Linked DNA regions of Homo sapiens: region 2 is linked to region 1. Evidence: fine-mapped expression QTL. Tissue or cell type: whole blood. Region 1 holds a variant in brackets; the other region holds the start of a gene. All regions are shown on one strand. Distances are from middle to middle.

Region 1 (10,425 bases):
TGTCATACCCATAAAATGATGCTCAGTTTTTGTTTTTTATTATCTACATTGATGAAAAAGTATTTTCCATTGCTACAGAACAGAATTGTGATTTATAATTCACAAATTACGTGGCCAACAGAGCTAATGTATAACATTACCAAAATGTTTTTCTTTGAAATGTTCACTCTGAGCATTATGTTAGAAAACTAAATTTATCAACTATATCTACATAGTCAACTGACAAAATGTGCCCCTAAGTCAGACCCACTGTGAGCAAATTTTCCACTTAATACACTGGCAAAAAGCATTTGATATCAAAGCTTCCTTTTGCTTTACACAGGTAATGTTTTTAGTTATTTTAGCCCCTATGCACCATAAATGCATATACTCATCTGCATCAGAATTATTCTAAGGAAATTCTTTGTTTTGTTAAAAGTGATGCAAATAGAATAGTTTTTAAATGTAGCTTATATGTGCAATTTAGTATTTTAAAATTTTTTAATTAGACAATTTATAATAAGTGTGGCTTTCGGTTCAAATCAACCTATGCAATAGTATACAAAGTGCGGAAATTTCTAACAAGGTTATTAGGTAAACACCCAAATGAAACTGCATACTTGCGTGCCATCTCTGTTTAATAGCAATGCCTTCACATTATCCGTGTGCCCTTTAAGCTTCATTAGTTTTGCACATGTTCTTGGATCCCATACCCGTAACACCTGTGAATTTTAATAGAGTATTACACAAACTAAATATATCAGTATCAAATTTAAATAACAGACAACTCTCATAAGTCAAATGATAACCATTATATTCTGAGAAGGCAATACCACTTCTGCCAATGGACACTGTCTAAGCCTCCCAACCTCAGGGAATTAGGCCTTTCAAACATCAAAAATGCACAGCCTCTTTATCTTGTCACTATACACACAACAGTTATAGTTATACTCTTACTTATTCAAATAAAACCTTTTGTTTAGCACCCACTAGGCAAAACCACTGTCCATATATTTAATAATTACACAGATTAAATTATTTTGGTTTCTTTATTTTCTAATGTTCAAACCACCCTTTAAGCTCCCCCGATTGGGGCACAGTGGCTCTCATGCCTGTAATCTCAGCACTCTGGGAGGCCAAGGCAGGTGAATTGCTTGCACTAAGGAGTTGGAGGGACAACATGGCGAAACCCTGTCTCTATTAAAAATATACAAAAATTAGCCAGATGGGACAAGGAGTGGCCTGATGCACGTGATGGTGTGTGCCTGGGGTCCCAGCTACTCAGGAGATTGAGGTGGAAGGATCGCTACAGCCTCAGCAGTCAAGGCTGCAGTGAGCCAGGATCATGATGCCACTGCACCCCAACCTGGGTGACAGAGTGAGACCCAGTCTCTAAATAAATAAATATAAAGAAGCTAATCGTAAAATACCTGCTTAAAAAATAGGAGACAAGGTATGTGAAAAATAATTTTTTTTTTTAAATAAAGAAATAAGCTCCTCCTTACCTTTTCAGTGGACCCTGATACAATGATTGTTCCCAGTTGATTCATGGCCAGGCTATAAATGGAATCTTTGTTTCCACTTAAAGAAGAAGCTATTGAGGATAAACGGAGCTAAATGTTAACAAGATCATCAGCTGTTTAGTAACTAGTCAGCAAAAACTGCAAGTTTATTCAATTTAGAAAATCTTATCTTTATAAGTCCTCTACGGAAAAGAAATCTACCTATAATGGAGATAAATCTAAACAGTATTATTATCAAAATTTACATATTTTCTGGATTTGAATATATACAAATGCTCAATATCTGATAAACTGCAGTGCCATTGAAAAGCTATCCGCTTAAATGATATGTTTAAAGCTATTCATGTGCCATAAATATGAAAAAATGTTCAATTTCAGTATTTTTCAAACACAAATCAAACCAAAAACACTGTTTCATACACCAAGACAAAAAACAAGGTAATACTTGATTGTAAAAAGAAAACAGTACAATGGAACTCTCATATATTACTTATGTGAAGATAAATAGGTACAACCTTTCAGGAAGGAATTCAGACTATAGCAAAAATCATGTTCATACTCTCAGTATCACTGAAGTAAAAAAGATGTATATGAAACTGTCTATATAGTATGAACCCAATTTTACAAACATATTAAAAAGTTGAGTAAATGAGTTACTACATGTACTGTTTAGAAAAATGTCTACTTGTAGCAAGTACTCAATACAGGTTAGCCATTATTAGTATTATTTTTATTATTATGTATTAAAAAAAAGTGTGATATCCTCTCTAAACAACTCTAAGCAAGATGTAGCAGAATCTGTATCCACTAAGCCTGGGCCCTGACCTTGTGACAACCTGCTTTTTTTTTTTTGCTTTGTTCCCTCCCATTAGTGTCTCTTTGAGGCAGGCCTTACATCCAGACTTAAAACCTAATGATGTACCATGACAGCCCCAACAGGGACCAGCTAATGAATCAGAGATAATGTACAGGTGAAAAATCAAGAACAAGGGAAAAAGAATGTTGAGACCTTCACATATTTCCTGGAAAACAAGGCAAAACAACAATCAAGAGATTATAAACACAAGTCTCCCAACTTACCCTTCTTGGCACATACTAGGCTATATTAGTAAAACTGTATTGTCTATGTCAATGTGAACACTCCACAGAGTCGTTATAAAATGGACCTATAATGTAGGGATCCAGAGAATGCAGGCCCATGTCTTCAATGTAGACTTTCCAGGTCAGGCCTAGCCAAAAATGTGCTCCTAACAGTCCCTTCTGAAACCTGGCCTAGAGGACTCTACTAGGTTGGGCCAAGCATGAAGCTCAATTTCAAATCTAGACTTGTATGAGCCTGACTTGGTAGTCTGAGATCTCTTAGCTGATGAATCATCCATGCTGTGAACATCTCTGGATTGCCTCTAGAAGCACTCTACCGTTCTGGCTCTTCTGGAATTGGCTTGATTCCTCAGGGCTGCTCTAAAAGGCAGAAAATTTGATAAACTGGCACTGGAAACCTTTTCTTTCTTTCTCCTGGGTATTTTTCATCTTGGCTATTAACTCAAAAGCTCTTAACACTTTAAAAAGTCAGAAAACCGCCTACTTTGTCAGAAAATCGCCACCTCCTTCAATAATACCTGCTGAGTGTATGGATTTGGACCAGGGAATGCTGTGGGAGATACGAAGTAGTAAGACAGTCTCCTCTACCCTGCAGGGACTTACATTTTAGCTAGGGAGCTAAGACATGCACACGTACAAAAAATAACCAGGTTATACCTGGAGAAGTTACCATTTTTAGACTGCAGTGAGGAACTAGCTCTTTGTTGTTCAATCATACTCTTGGGGGCCAGAACGCTGTAGGTAGAAGCACTCTCAAAATATGAAACACTCTCTCGATGCAAACCTATCAAAAATGTTTTATAAACCATTCTTTATTTATGTTAACTTGGATCACTTTCAAAGAAGTTTCTTTTAAACACCTTACTTGTGACAGTGTTATTTGAGGCAGTCAATGCTGTTAGAGTATTCACATCCCAAAGGAATATTTGTCTGTCCAACCCAGCTGATGCTACTAGTTCTTTATCCTTGGCATATGCTAAGGCCTTTACGTAATCCTGTAATAGAACAGACATACTATGATCTATTCTGTAGATCAGTAATAAAATGAGCCACACAAAGTACTGAGATCCCAATATTACACTAAAGACACTGAGAACTGTATTGTTTTACCTTATGTGTCCTTAATGTTGACATGCAAAATCCCTTGTGTGCATTCCATACTTTTACTGTCGTGTCAGAAGAAGCAGATATTACTAGAAGAAGCAAAGAATTAACAAACTCCTTAGTAGTATGACTTAAAACTTTGAAAACTTATCTTACAACAATGTAACATTATTTCAAACTAACATATTCTCTCTCTTACACACACAAACATACCTAAAAGCTCTTTCTAGAACCTATTGTATATTGCCTCAATTTTTTAAAATCTCAAGACACATGTTCAAAGAAAAAAATATATTTTTAAAACAAGCAGTGCAAACATTTTTAATGTTCCAGTTGAAGGCTCAACTAATGTGATTGAGAAAAATTCCTGTAACTCGGACTGCAAAACCAAGGAATGGATCTCACCAAAATTAGAACAAAAAGAGGTATTAATAAGGCTAAAAGAAGAATACATATAGTACGAGTCTATATACAGTTCAAATGAAGGCAAAACTACCCTTTGGTGTTCAGAAGACAGAAGAGCAGTTACCTTGGGGCAAGAGGGAATAACTGAAAGGGTGGCAAAGGGTGGCACAAGAGGGCTTCTAGTAATATTGTTTCTTGATTTGGGTATTCACTTTCTAAAATTGTGTTGAACTGCAATCTCGAAGTGTGTGTACTTTTCTGTATGTATGTTTCAATAAAAAAGCTTATATAAAAAACAAAAAATATATCAGAAGCCCAATAATAATCCAAAGAAATACTTACATGTTTTCCCATTACAACAGAGTACAATGTCGTTTACCCAATCAGTATGGTGTTCCATAGATGCTATATATGGATCTTGCTGAAATTAAAAGAAAAATCCTAAGAGTTTATATGAGAGAATGAAATATATTACAAATGATAGATATGGTTAAATTCTTCAATTAATGTGACATACTGCTCTAGGCATTAAAACTAACACCTGAATTCTGAGTAGAATCTCACCAAATAGGTGATGCTTCCAGATAACAGATGTAAACAGTTTTGTTTCAGGACAGTTTTACTCTTACTGAAAGCTTAGGTTTCCAGGACAAATACTTCATTTTTTTTTTTTTTGCCTTGTTAAAGTGAAGGCAACAAGCTCTGGACTAGGCACTGTGTGTGACATAAAACCCTTTAAAAAGGGTTCACTAGAAAGGACATGACTTGTAGGAATCTGTAGGCTGTGGGGATTTGAATGAGTGGTGGTGAAGGCTCAACAGCAGACAGCAGGGGCAGCAATGAGTCTGATGAGTGCACTAAGGAGCCTGGTCTGAATGCAGAGGGAGATAAACACTTCTGCTTTCAGCTTCCTACTGTTGGGTTCACCCTCTGAATTAAATGTTTTCCTCATGGTACCTACAGGCCTTCAGAGATGAAAGGAAACCCAACGGCTGAGAAAGGACAACCTGTGTCACCATTTCAATTAGGTGATTCGAGATTCTACTTCTCTTACCTGGCTTAATAACCAGGAGAGGCCTTTTAAAGAACAGTATTTAGTTACATCCTACACCTAAAACAGGCAAGTTTGAGACACTTTATGGGCAAACAGAACAGCTCTGTACAAGTCTGTTTGACAAATAATGCTATTCAATCTTGTCATAAAAGGAAGACCAGAAAAAAGATGTTTGGGGCAAGACAGGCAGATTTCCAGATTCTTCAGGTTAGTTCTTTTGGGTGTTTTTCTTAATTTGTTTGAAATACTGTGAATGCTCAGAAAGGAGACATTCCAATTCAATTATAAGTACCAAAAAGCATTTCAAAGCCAAACATAGTTTTCTTACTTTTCATGCTTTTGACATTTGGCCACCACTGCATGGTCCATTGGCTAAAGAATTCAAAGCCTGCCAGACTGAAGTTATAGGCGCATAAAGTAGTGGTTCTTTTTCTGAACTGAATATCAGACTTGTAAAACTTGCTAAAAAGACACAAACTTTTAAAAATACAAGGTCTAGCACTAGGGTTTTCAAGTTGGGCTGGGTACTAATTCTCTGTCACTTCCTAGCCACATAACCATGGGTTTCTCTGAGCCCATTTTCTCATCTATGAAAATGGATCTGGCCAGGCGCGGTGGCTCACGCCTGTAATACCAGCACTTTGGGAGGCCAAGGCAGTTGGATTATCTGAGTCTAGAAGTTTGAGACCAGCCTGACCCACATGGTGAAACCCCGTCTCTACTAAAATTATAAAAATTAGCTGGATGTGGTGG[C/T]GTGTGCCTGTAGTCCCAGCTGCTGAGGAGGCTGAGGCAGGAAAATTGATTGAAGCCAGGAGTCAAGAGGTTGCAGTGAGCCAAGATCGCGCCACTGCACTCCAGCCTGGGTGACAGAGCGAGACTCCATCTCAAAAAAAAAAAAAGAAAAAAAAGAAAATGGATCCTAATAGGTACCTTGAGGGACACTGAAAATTAAAATCACATTGGATATGAAAATGCAAAGAGCGTATGGCACATAATTAGAAGATCAATAAATGCTCTTTTTTTCTTCCCTGATTCTTCTTTTCTCTGTCATTCACAATATAGGTGTTCCAACAAAATACTAAAAGGGCTCGTTACCATTTGCCTGGGGATTTATCTTTACACATATTTAAACCCTGTTCCCTGCTTAAGAAAGGGAAATCTTTGAAGGGGAGCATGTTGTCTTCATAGTTTTAACACCAATTTTATATTATCTTTATTTATTTATTTGAGACAAGGTCTCCCTCTGTTGCCCAAGCTGGAATGCAGTGGTGTGATCACGGCTCACTCAGCCTCAACCTCCCATACTCAATCAAGTGATCCTCCCACCTCAGCTCCCCGAGTAGCTGGGACTACAGGTGTGTGCCACCATGCCCAGCTAATTTTTAAGTTTTTTTTTTTGCAGAGACAGGGTATTGTCACATTGCCCAGGCTGGTCTCGAACTCCTGGACTCAAGGAATCCTTTCACTTTGGCCTCCGAAATTGTTGGGATTGCAGGTGTGGGCCACCATGCTCAGCCTAACCTTGTATTACCTAGTTAGGCCGTGTGGGGTTTGTGAGGATCCTAATTACTTTTAAGTGAGGAAAATAAAATATTTTTTCAAGATTAATTAGAAATGTAAAAGAATATTCAATCTTTTTTTAGTAAGGTTACCAAGAGGTTGTTGGGGAACATATTTAAAGCAAAAAAATTAATTGTTGAAAGTAATCCCCCTACTAGCCAAATCACTTTGTTCCTTTGTGGCAAAGAACTCTGTAAGGCAAACCTAGTTTAGGGAGTCCTTGTCTTAGCTGAAACACTTCTGAAACTTTCCTAGGGATGGTTTTTCTCAGAGGCTTACAGAATTCTGGTTGCGATGTCTTTATAGAGTGTACCAAATAACTCAGCATTCAGAGAGATTAAATCTGAAACTGTGAAAAGTGTCATATTAGACAGTAAAAGCCATTTGTCCAGAATTTGCTGGGTACAGATTTTAATCCCTGCATTACCTTGTGCTGATTGACACTCCATATTCTTATGATAGAGTCTCGACCGGCTGTGAAAAGTCTATTTAGTGCTGGATCCAGCTGCAGAGCATTGACTCCATTTCGGTTGTACTTCTCCACTTCATCTCGAATAACATAGGAAACCTGACAAATGTGTCAACATATGCTTTTTATAAAGTACAAGCCATGCAGTAATAAAATATAGTCTACTAGTGGCCAATCTGAAACAGAAAATCCCATGTTTTCCAATATGTACTTTTTCAACCCAATACAAATTTAAATTTTACTCCTTAAAGACTAAAGGGCTGAAGAGAAGGATGGTATCAATGATAGCCTAGTCCAACATGAGTAAGTTGCTAAACTACTATAACTGCTTCCTGACTGGACTCCTTTCCCAGTCTTTAGTCCATTTTTCACAAAGCAGCTAGAGTAATTATTTAAAAATCTATCTCAGCTCTGCTCAAAAACCTCCAGTTGCTGACTACTAGACTCATGATTGGATGTAAATTCCTTAACATGGTCTCAAGTACCCTGTTTGTCTTTCTGGCCACTCATCTCTGCTCCAGGTTCTGGTGCATTGTGCCTCCAGACCATCACACATGCTGGTCCTCTCTGTTTGGAAGCTCTTCCTCCGACCTGTCTGGCTAACTCTTGTTGCAGCCTTCAGGTTTCCATTTAAACAATACTTCCTTTAGAAGGCCTTCCCTGACTTGCCAAGCAAAATGAGGTTTTGAGCTCCTATCACATACTAAACTTTTTCTTCAGGGCATTTTCCCCTACTTTGTTACTGTTGGTGACCTCTGTCTGTTCCTTGTGAAAACAGGGGATCAACTGAAAACAATTACACCTAAGAAAAAGTCAATAAGCTGGCTGGCAGCCAGAAGTAAAACTTTCTAATGTAATGAAATAAACAGTTAAAAATTAACTCAAGATGGACTAAAGACTTAAATGTTAAGACTTAAAACCATAAAAACCCTAGAAGAAAACCTAGGCAATACAATTCAGGACACAGGCATGGGCAAAGACTTCATGACTAAAACACCAAAAGCAATGGCAACAAAAGCCAAAATTGACAAATGAGATCTAATTAAACTAAAGAGCTTATGCACAGCAAAAGAAACTATCATCAGAGTGAACAGGCAACCTACAGAATGGGAGAAAATTTTTGCAATCTACCCATCTGACAAAGGGCTAATATACAGAATCTACAAAGAACTTAAACAAATGTACAACAACAACAACAACAAAAACAACCCCATCAAAAAGTGGGCAAAGGATATGAACAGACACTTCTCAAAAGAAGACATTTCTGCAGCAGACACAAGAAAAAATGCTCATCATCACTGGCCATCAGAGAAATGCAAATCAAAACCACAATGAGATACCATCTCATGCCAGTTAGAGTGGCAGTCATTAAAAAGTCAGGAAACAACAGATGCTGGAGAGGATGTGGAGAAATAGGAATGCTTTTACACTGTTGGTGGGAGTGTAAAGTAGTTCAACCACTGTGGAAGACAGTGTGGCGATTCCTCAAGAATCTACAACTAGAAATACCATTTGACCCGGCCATCCCATTACTGAGTATATACCCAAAGGATTATAAATCATTCTACTATAAAGAAACATGCCCACGTATGTTTATTGCAGCACTATTCACAATAGCAAAGACTTGGAACCAACCCAAATGTCCATCAATGATAGACTGAATTAAGAAAATGTGGCACATATACACCATGGAATACTATGCAGCCATAAAAAAGGATGAGTTCATGTCCTTTGCAGGGACATGGATGAAGCCAGAAACCATCATTCTCAGCAAACTATCACAAGGACAGAAAACCAAACACCACATGTTCTCACTCGTAAGTGGGAGCTGAACAATGAGAACACATGGACACAGGGCAGGGAACATCACACACTGGGGCATGTTGGGGGGTAGGGGGCTGGGGGAGGGATAGCATTAGGAGAAATACCTAATGTAAATAACAAGTTGATGGGTGCAACAAACCAACATGGCACATGTATACTTATGTAACAAACCTGCACGTTGTGCACATGTACCCTAGAACTTGAAGTATAATAATTAAAAAAAATTATCTCAAGTACCTATAGTGATTCTATTAGGAACAATTATACCCTTTCTCCACATCTTAAACCAAAAACGAATTTTTCTATGAATTAAAGACTGAAATTTAATAACCATAAAAATAATTTTTGTTTTTATTTTTTGAGAGAATCTTGCTCTGTCACCCAGGCTGGAAAGCAGTGGCCCGATCTTGGCTTACTACATCCTCTACCTCCCAGGTTCAAGCAATTCTCGTGCCTCAGCCTCCTGAGTAGCTGGGATTACAGGCATATGCCACTGTGCCCAGCTGATTTTTGCATTTTTAGTAGAGATGGTGGTTTCACCATGTTGGCCAGGCTGGGTTTCAAGTGGTCCACCCGCCTCAGCCTCCCAAAGTGCTGGGATTACAGGCGTGAGCCACTGCACCTGGCCAGCATAAAAATAATTTTTAAAAGACAGGTGAATATTTACATAGTCCCTTGCCAGAGAAAACTCTTCCAACATGCCAAGAAAGATGGTAATCTTTACGAAGGAAAAGAGCAATGGTGATCTGGCCAAATACAAGTCAAAACCTTTTCTATGTACAAGAATGTTCACAGCATTGTGGCATTCACAATAATGTTACAAAAGTGGAAACAACCCAAATATCCATCAATGGACAAAACAAATAAAATGTGATGTGTGTGTGTGCATATATATATATATATATGCACACACACACACTGTACTGACACATGCTATAACGTGGATGAACCTTGAAAATGTGCTAAGTGAAAGAAGCCACATATTTTACAAAAGGCCACATATTTTATGACTCTATTTATATATAATGTCTAGGATAGACAAATCCACACAGAAAGTAGATTAGTAATTGCCAGGAGATTGAAGGAGGGAAAAATGAAAAACGGGGAGTAATTGCTAATGAACATAGAGTAATTAAACATTCTGGAGTTAGGTGACCAATAAACAACTTTCCGAATATACAAAAAAATCACTGAATTGTACACTTTGAAAGGGTGCACTTTATGGTATGTGAATTTTATCACAATGTTATTATTTTCTTAAACCTTCTGAATGTCAAAAAGTAACACGAGCAAGACTAAGAGAATAATGAAATAAATATGAAAGAAAGTTTACTCTTAACAAGATTCCTTATAAAATAAGAAAAAGTCAAATTTACCAACAGAAAGAGGGACAGTTACAAAAAGGG
Region 2 (9,637 bases), 44 kb before region 1:
CATGGCCTCTGCAGGCCAACACCAGCCACCAGTTTCTCCTCAAAGGGTCATGACACAGGTGCCCTAAGGGCCAGGGGGCAATGCTTCTAAAAGACTTGAAATTGGACTCTGAAAGGACGGCTTCCCTTAGACCTACAGTAACCCCCATTAAGAGACTCGTCATTAAAAACAAGAGGATTATTCCGTATAATGAAGACTTACGCATAAATGTGTTCATTGAAGCACTTTAAGTGCATAACTGGAAACAATCCCAATATCCAAACAATAGGGGACTGGGTTGGTAAATTACATTATGCTCATACAGTAGAAGACTGGCTTTATATCCATGTTCAAACTGACATTTTGAATATTACACAAAGAAAATATTACATGAAGAAAAACAAACTAAATGACAATATGCCCTAGGGTGAAAACTACGTTATAGACCAACACTGTCTCCCACCCCACAGTGACTGCTGTGTGTGACCCACCCCCTACCATCAGGAGCAGGAGAGTTGGTGGCTGATGGCTCTCCATGGAGTCTCCCTCCAGGGATCACCCATGGTTGAAGGGAGCTGCTTTGTCCCAGGTCACACCTGTCCCTGGGGCAGCCCACCTCCAGTGTCAAGGCACTGATGGGGAGCTCACTGAAGGGGCATCCCGGCTCCAGAGTTCCCCAAAGAGTAGGCTGTGGCCTTTGCTGTGACTATTCACAGCCCGCCTTCTCTTTCCACAGGTGCTGGCCCCAAGGGTGCTCTGTGATAAGCTGGCTCACAATAATCTCCATTGCTTTCTGCCAGCCAGAAAACCAACCTAATACACACCCTGGACCCAAGTATAGAAAGAAGACTAGAAGACATTGCCCTAAAATACTAACATTTGTCTTGGAGCGGTAAGACTAAGCCTGCCATTTTAATTCATCTGTTGACTTTTTTTAGGCTTCTGTTTTCTTAAATAAGTATGTATTCTTTTATAATAAAAATATATGCAAACAGAAGAAAATACGAGGACATTTTTTCTCTCAAAGATTAATTCCATGAGGTTCACAAGAGAAAAAAGAAACTTAAGATCAGAAAACACAGAACATATAAAATATATACCTCCCTTCTCTTACGGCACACTAAATGAATTTAACAGGTAGAAAGAAGTGAAATGGGAAGGTCAAAATAAAAGAAGAAAGGGAGAAGGGCACTGAGTGAAACTAACACAGAGGCAGAGAGAAAGCCTGAGAGGGTCAAGGAAGGATAGACCTTAAGAAAGTGACCCTGAGAAGACCCCCATGCAAATGAGACAGAAACTCAGATCAAGCAGGAAGAAATCTGAGAAGTAGAGTGGACCTTGGACTGCTGTGTAACCCTGGATTGGTTGCTGAACCTCTCTGGGCCTCTGCTCTTTATCTACGAGATGAGGCATCTGGAGACTACGAGGGTTTGGCCTGGGGGTACCTGGTGGGTCTCTGGTTCCAGTGGCCTGGCCAGGAATACTTCCACCTCTCCCTTTTCCACTGCCCACCTTTCCCATCAGCCCCAGCACATCTTTGGTGTCCTGAATTCCTTGTTCCAGGTACTCAATGGCTTTCTTCGCAGTGTGGGGCTTGTCTGAGGTCAGGTCCACCCAGCCTCTGAGCACATAGGCCTGGGATGAGAACAAGATGAAAGATGAAGTCCTTGGTCCTGCACAGAATCAACTCAGCCTGCACATGATCCACACTTTGCCACCCAAAACCCTGAGGCCCTGCCAGGCACAGTCCCGTGCAGATCCCAGGGCAGCCAGCTCTCTCTCATGGCCAGGACTCCCATTGTTGCTTTGTCTGGAAATGCCCTGGACAGCGCCCCTCCCACTCCCAACCAAACCCCTTCACCTAATGTCCATTACCACTACTTACAACTCAGCCTCAGAGGCCCCTGCTTAGGAGGCCTCCCTCCCTGTACCCCTACAGCTCTCCATGACCCTTACTGAGGCACACTCACCTATCCTGTCATTGCCTGTTTACACTGGGGTCAGGAGCCAACATGGGGGCCTACGCAAGGCCACTCTTGATGTCTCCACTCCTTAGGCCAGCACGAGGCCTGGCCCTGCATAGGAAGCCAAGGAATGCCCTCTGAGTGGGTGAGCAGGAGCCGTTCTGAGCTCGTGGACCTCGCTGGTTCCATGTTAGCCTTCACCCAGCCTCTCCAGGCAGATGGGGAGGGCCAGGCCTGGGAAGCAGACTTGGAAGAGCCCTGCCCTAAAGCACCCCTCTTGATGGCCTAGATCAGTATTTCTCTATTATAGTTCTATTTCTCTTTTTCTATTATCTATCCTAAGGAGTCTCTTTAGATACTGTTTTCTAATCAATCCCTCCCCTTCCAAGAAATGTTAGTGCCTCAGATATACCGTATCTGTGTATTGTGTACTGTATATATATCTGTGTTTTATACATAAAGAGTAAGATTTTTTTCACCCTCTCCCCCAGGGACCATGTCTACACCCTTGAAAATTGGTATCAGCCCTGCTGAGAAGGCATGGCCTAGACTGAGGCTTCAAATTCCATATTAGTGCAGATATACAGTATATGGGCTGCACTGCATGAGCCACCATTCAGTTCCAGCAGAGCATTACAGGGAGGGAATGGCCCAGTGTGGCCAGCTCATCTGGGTCTTCAAAAGAACCAGTAAGTCTGGACCAGCCTGGGCAACATGGCAAGACCCAGTCTCTACAAAAAATGTAAAAACTAGCTGGGCATGCTGGCACACACCTATGGTCCCAGCTACTTGGGGGGCTGAGGTGGAAGGATTGCTTGTGCCTAGGAGGTTGAGGCTGCAGTGAGGTCTCAAAAAAAAATTTCTTAAGAATATGGTGCAAGCCATAGAAAATCTATCTAAAGATCAGACTCTGTGTACAAATGCCAATGTGTAACCTCTGCTAAGCCCAGAGACAACACGCGTGGGGCAACTGTGAGACCCGGTGTTTTGCCAGTGCCTGGGTGTGGCTCTCCCCCAGTTTCAGGGCCCTTTGTGGGAATGAGGGCCACCCTGCTATTATGTGTTTGGATGCTGCTTTCTTCGCCTGTTGTCCCCATGGTGTGGTAAGTACCTCTCTGAAGCCTCTAGAAATCTTCAGCATGCGGTCAATGTACTCTTTGGCCTTGTCATGGCGGCCTATGAGCCAGAGGAAAAGGCCAGCATAGTACAGTGCAGTCCCACTGACTGTCTTGCGTATTTCCTTCAGGCTGTACTCAAGCTCCTGAATTGCTTCTCGGTCTGTAAATCCAAGAGCGAAGGAAGAGGGAGAGTTAGGATGTGGAAGTCTGCCTGGTTCTGCATGGGCCACCGAGGGCCCAGGGAACTACCTCGGGGTCTCCCCCAGACACTGTGGATCTCCTTCAACATATGCAGCACACCGCATGCAGCCCAAGGCCTGGAAACCAGCAGTACCTGCCCTTGAGATGCTGCAGGGGCTGCCCTGGTGTGGACTCACGTGTGCTGTCTGAGATTACCTTCTCTTCTCTGTGCCCAGCAGTGTGCTGAGCAGGCAGGCCAAACCAAAATCCTTAGCCTCAGGCCCACAACTTATTGTGAGTAGGGAAATAGTAGTCTGTAGTCTCTCTTGGACCCTCTCCCTGACTCTAGAAATGTGGAGATTAGGGGTAGAATTATATATATTGGCTTGGTTTTTCTGACAAGATCTTGGCAAAGAAGAAGGGTGTTTCCCCAACTCTTGGGATCTGGAGCATGGGCCCCTCCCACTGTCATGGGCTCTGCCTGCTTCCACTCAGTTGGGCCCAGGCATGGAGTCTTCTCCCAGGCCTCCAGGGGGAGAGGAGCAGCAGCCACTTCTCACTGGTTAACAGCATCTGCACAGCCACCAGGGCACATACCTCCTTTGGCAGCCCTTGAGGGGCTGTGTTATCTCTGGGGCAGGGCTTTCCTTCCCCTGGTGGGTCAGGCCTGGTTGAGCATGGTGGCACTCACCAATGATTTCACATCTTTTGTGAGCATAAATGAGGGCCATGGTGGAGCACAGGGACACGTCTGGGTGATGCCTGATGCTTTCCAGGTCACTGATGGCATCCTGGATGTGCTCTGCAAAGACAGTCCACATAGTTATACTCTCAAGCTCCAGGACTAGAGGACATGAGACTCTGTAGCTGACCCAACAGCTCAGCACTACTACCTGCTGGACTAACTGGTCTGAAAGGTCCCCAGTGACCCAAGTTCCCTGAAGATTGGGGCTCTTTGAAAGAGTTGCTGGTAACATGGTCCAGGCTGTTAGGGGCTGGAAATCTTGGACTTGAAAGGTTCACCCTGTGAGTACTTGTGGGGATATGTGTGAGGCTGCAATTATTAGCTGCGTCAGTTCTGAAGAAGGACCTCAGGCAGGGCATTCTCAGCTACTGCTCAAGAGCCACTGATTACATTTATCCCTCCATGTCCTCAGACATTTGGCCATGGGCTATTCTGCCAGTCCTCAGCCTAGGACCACCTTCTGAATGTCAGCCCATCTGCACCTGCATGGGTCTCACTCCTCTCCCTGTACCTGTACCATACCCACCTGTCCTCACACCTACCTCTTCCCCCTCCTTTGCCTGCATTACCAGTTCTCAGCTTCCAGGCCTGGAATTACTTCAAGAATCATGCAGCTATCTCTCCAACCACTCATTTTACAGAGAGGGAACCCGAGGTGCAGAGCAGGGATAGTCAGCGCTCTGAGGTCTCAAAAGTCAACTAGATATGGATTACGTAGGCCTCTGTGGATTCCCGTGGGAATCCAGCCGCTGAGTGTGAAACTGTTTTTATGGGACCATAACTAGGATACAAGAAGGCATCCAGGTGGAGCCAGAGTGTTAGGGCCCAGCTAGTGCCTGGGGTCACAAGACCAACACTGCCAAGTCCTTACCTTCTTTGAGGACTCCATAGGCTTTAAAGAACTTCAACACAGGGTCATTGCTGAATTTTTCCAGGCCCACAGCTGCAGCCTGCTGCACATGGTGGAAGTACTTTTCCTGGCTATAGTAAATGATCCCAGCCTGTATGAAGGAAGACATAACTGCAATAGCCCAGTCCCTTCTCTGTCTCTGTTCTGTCCCAGATGGGATGAGACCTGCTCCCTTCCCTATCCCCTGCTCCTCCTCAGTTCTGCAAAGGGAAGAGAAAGAGGAAACATTCAGGCCTCATCCTGTCCTCTAACAGCCCTGGGAGCAGCTCCATGCAGTTTTCCCAGGAAAGAGTTTGGAGGTGTTTGTTTGGGGGATTACCAACAGATTCTGGTTCAACTATGATGGGGAATTCAACCAAGGCTTTGTCTTAGGAAGGGAATAAGGGGGGAAAAATGAGGACAAATAATAAGAAAAATTATACGAATTGTAGTTACAAGTTATTGTGGGCTTCATATCCACTATCCTGTGCATGGTCCTCTCAGTATCTTTCACAGCTAAGGAAGCTTAAGCCCATGGAAACTACAGCTTGACAAAGGGGCTGAGATTTTAAAGTTAAGTTTCACTTCCTCTAAGGTTTGTGGGTGCTAGGTTGGGAGCAGATGTGGTTGGACTGTAAACATCCTCATGGGCCATATGAAAGAGCCCAGACACCATCCTAAGGGTAACAGAAAGCAGAATGGTTTTAAGGCGAGGGATGTTTTCAGATGTACATTTTTGCAACAACCACTCTGGCTGCTTTTGCATGTGGGGGGTGTGTGCCGTGGTGGCAGCAGGGACTACTGATGCTGAAAAGAGCCACAGCAGAGAAACCAGATGGGAGGGAGGCTGTTGCAGGCTCTCAGGGGGGAGAGATGGTGCTGGTTCTGGGCTAGAAGATAAAAAGATAAAAAGAAAACCCAGGAGACATCAAGGAGCTGGCATTTCTTGTAGACAGGATTAGAAGATGAGTATAGGGAAGAGGTATGAGTTAAGGCTAGGAGATTAAATGGTGAAGCCATCAACTGGGGTGGGAGGCGCAGGCGAGAGTGAGCTGGGTGGAAGAAGGGATGATGACAAGAAGGGATAATGATAGTGATTGGATGAGCTGGTTTGGGGTAGCTCAAGAAACGGGGATGCTAATTTGGGGCTCAGGGTGCGCAGAAGCCACCGGAGAAGACGCCCTTGCCAGGGGGAGTGGGGCAAGAAAAGGCAGGACCGCCTGATATAACTGAGGACAGCGAAGGGTGGCAGGAGAGTAGCAGGGCAGACGGTCTCTGGGTCAGGGGCGGGGAGTCACGAGGGAGCCCTCGGACAGCGCCCGGGCCACGCACCATAAGGGAGGAGTCATTGCTGCTCATCTCGGGCCGCTCGCGGCTCCGAGTCCGGGTCTGGTGGGGCGGTGCAGAGCGGGATTCCCGAGGCAGGGTCGTGGGCACTCTATCGCGGCGGGCGGTTGAAGGCGTTACAGTCCTTGGAAACCGAGCTGCTAGCCGGTTGCTAGGAGCGTCCAGTGTCTGGAGTGGGAGGAACAAAACGCCTCACGTCACAAGGCGCAGGAATCGAGCGCCGAGAGAGCGAGTCGGTGCTACTGGCGTCGGGTCGGTCCGGGTAGGCGCAGCGGGACTGGACCTGGGTGCCGAGCGGAGCCGCTGCCATGGGCCTGGGCGTCAGCGCTGAGCAGCCCGCAGGCGGCGCCGAGGGCTTCCACCTCCACGGGGTGAGTTGCCGCCGCGGCGCCGGTGACCTTGGCGAGGCGCCCGCAACCCCGCGCCCGGGCGTCCGGTCGCCGGCTGGCTGGCGACTGCGGCGGGGTCCCGGCCCGAGTGTTTCCGCCTGGGTGGCGGGAGGTGCCCCCTGCCCGGTGGGAGCCTCCTGGGAGAGGCGGCCTCGCGGGACTCCCGGACCCTGGCTAGTCCGCGGCCGCGGTCGGGCCCAGCGCCCGCCCCAAGTGCCAGCAGTGCCGGAAGCGGAGCGTTTTCCTGGTCCGGCCGCCGGGAATGGCGCTCCTCCCGGGTGAAGAATGCACCACTACCAGTCGGGACGCACTCGTGCACTTAGCACACATTTACGCTCGCCTGCCGCGGGCCGCTCTCCGTGCTGGGCCTGGGAAGAGAGTCAGCCACGCCGAGGACAGTCCCGGGGGCCGGGGTTAACCGAGTGGACGCAGCTGCGGGGGAGCCCGTCGGCGCGCGTCCTGCCAGTCGTAGGGTCGTAAGGGCTTCCGAGGGTAGAGGACCGGTGCAAACCAGCCACGGGATAGTGGGGAGCGGGAGGGCCGGGAGAGTGCTGCAGAATCCTCGAGGAGAGCGTTTGCAGCTGGGGAGGGTCCCAGCCTTTAGATGCCGCTACATGGAGGTCTGGGCGAGCAGGCTTCCGGAGAGTGGAGACGGAGTGGGGTTCCTAGAACGGAGTGTGCTGTGAGGGTGAGGAGAGGGTCCCGCAGCCGGATGGAGATTTGTGCCTGCGGTGAGGGAAGGGCTATAATGTAGGTGAGAGGGGCTGGGGGTCTCTGACCCCGGAGCGCTGCGGGGAAGAGGCGTCCCTGCACCCCCCCTTTCCCTAGTGAAAGGCAGCTGGATGCAGAGATGAGTGGAGACAGGCAAGCTTGTCGGTTTGTGTGTTTTGAAGGTAGGGTCTGTTGCCAGCTAACCACATGAGAGGGCTAAAAGTTTCTTAACGTGAAAACCAGGCTGGCTTGGAGAACCCAGAGTTGACAGGATTTGTGCTTGGGAATGGGCTTTCTTATGGTGAGACACCAAACAGCAAGCGTGGACAGTGGAATGCATCCAGCCAGGAGCGTCTTCCAACAGGTTTGATTAAAGGCAAAGGAACTCAGGATATTGGCAAGAGGAGGGGTGGGGCGATGATGGGAGCTTCGAAGACGGGAGGGGCCTGCCTGATGGAGAGGGACAAATTGGAGAGGGACCAGGGATCAGAGGTTGTCAGTCACAAAAACAAAGTTTTGAGCTCCTACTCTGGCAGGCAGAATTCTAAGGCTCTAGAGATAAAGCAGTGAACAGAACAAACATGGTCCCTGTTCTGGAGCTGACATTTGGATGATGGTAGGGAAAGAAGGGAAATGAAAAAATACATGGTAGGTGGTAATTACCAGTGATAAAAATAAAGCAGGTTAAGGGGATACAGAATGGTGAGTGGGTGCTATTTTTGATAGAGTGGTCAGGAAGGGCCTCTTCTCAAGTCACATTCGAACAGATGCTTCTGAAGGAAGTAAAGAGTGGACAATACAGATATTTAGGGGAATAGTAGTATTCCAGGCAGAAGGACCAGCTTGTGCAGAGGCCCCGAGGTAGGTTGTGCTTGTGTGTTTGAGGAAATGCCAGGTGAGGCTGGTGTGCTTGGATGGTGTGGCCAGTGTGAGGAGGAGACCAGAGCAGACCGTGTAGGACCTTGCCTGTTGTCCTGAAGATTTAAGATTTTATTCTGAGATGTAAAACCATCAGGAGGTTTTAAATGGAGGAGTGACATGACCTACTTACCTTTAACAACACTGAAGAACAGCTGTGCTGCATTCTAGAAATATTGGCACCTCGCTGCGTGCCCAATACTTTGGAGAAGTCGCTGCCCTCAGCGAGCTTAGAGTAGTGGCAGATTCACCAGGAAACAGCTGTTAGGAGAGGGCAGTGGTTAGGGGGAGGGCTCTGGGTTGGATTTCCTGGGGTCAAATTACTGAATTATTGAGTACTTGGTCTCATTTGTCATTTGAGGTTATTAAAAAGGTTAAATGACACATAAAGCAGGTGAGGTGGTGCCATGCCCTGGCACTCAGCCAACCAGCCCTTAGTAAGTGTAAGTTGTGATCACTGTGAGTTCCATTAGGTTCCCTGATTGGGAAAAATAGGGTGGGAGCATGAGGAAAAGCAGCACTATAGGGCCTTGGGGCAGGCTGTGATGGGAGCCCCTGAGGGAGCTGGATGGCAGGCAGTGGTTTCTGCAGGGGGAGCCGTACAGTGGGCAGCAGCATAGATTATTTCAGCTGCGGAGCCATAGTGAGTAGTGATGAGGCCCCAGGTGAGAGAAGTGGAGTGTAGCCAAGCAGAGGACAAAGCCACAGGAGAGGGTGGTGGAGGTATTGGGTGGGTCAAGGAGGCCAGGCCTGGGGCCTGACCCTCTGGACCTCATTCATGATGGAGAGCAGCTGACATGCAATACTGGGGAGTGGGGAGGGAAGTAGGCAGGCACCTGACGTGGAGTGATTTGGAGGTGGCCCTGATTAGGGAGGGGCATTGTCCCCAAGCTATTCCTGAATAACTGTCCTGTCCTGTGGTTTTCGAAAGATCCCCTCACCTGAAGGGTTAGAGGGCAGGGCCCAGAGCTCCCCTGCAGCGGGGCCTGGGAGCAGCTTGCCTACTGGGCCAGGCCAACTAGGCCCAGATCTGATTTCTGGGCCGCACTCACTCCCTTTGGAAGCCATGGCAGCTTCTGGAGGTGATAAGGAGGGGCTCAGTTGGTGATGCTGCCAGAAGGGAATCCTAATTCCAGGGGCAAACTGGCCTTGATCTCAGCGGTTTGTTCTCAGCCTAGTCTTCATGAGCTCTCCTTCAGGTTGGGGAATCCAAACCTGGAGGGGCTGGTATGTAGCAGGAGCCACAGGGCCTTTCCCATGAGGAGGCAGCAAGAGCCTAGGTCCTGTGCCCTCTGGGCTGGGTCTGGCTGGTGTCTACGCCAACAGGTTATCAAATGCCCGCAGCCAAAGACCTGAGGGTGTGGGCCCATCTTCGGGTCTAGGGCCTTGGGACAAAG

What was found. PIP is the estimated chance that this variant, and not a neighbour inherited with it, causes the effect.
Region 2: GORASP1 starts here. The variant in region 1 is fine-mapped to the expression of GORASP1 in whole blood (TOPMed, PIP above 0.99).

The regions. Positions count from the first base shown.
Region 1 is chr3:39,059,919-39,070,343 of GRCh38, reverse strand. It overlaps WDR48 (WD repeat domain 48), which reads right to left. Exons shown (of 19, transcript NM_020839.4): 2 at 7,154-7,294; 3 at 4,455-4,533; 4 at 3,714-3,796; 5 at 3,469-3,598; 6 at 1,485-1,573; 7 at 600-701. Among named protein-coding and RNA genes, the nearest start is that of WDR48, 13 kb to the right of the region's middle. The variant C/T (reference allele first, on the strand shown) is at 5,920.
Region 2 is chr3:39,104,435-39,114,071 of GRCh38, reverse strand. GORASP1 (golgi reassembly stacking protein 1) reads left to right here and starts at 6,445. Exons shown (of 9, transcript NM_031899.4): 1 at 6,445-6,593. The coding sequence starts at 6,531. It overlaps TTC21A (tetratricopeptide repeat domain 21A), which reads right to left and starts at 6,392. Exons shown (of 29, transcript NM_001366900.1): 1 at 6,208-6,392; 2 at 4,858-4,987; 3 at 3,933-4,043; 4 at 3,055-3,221; 5 at 1,492-1,614. The coding sequence starts at 6,234. RefSeq lists a silencer at 6,496-6,815.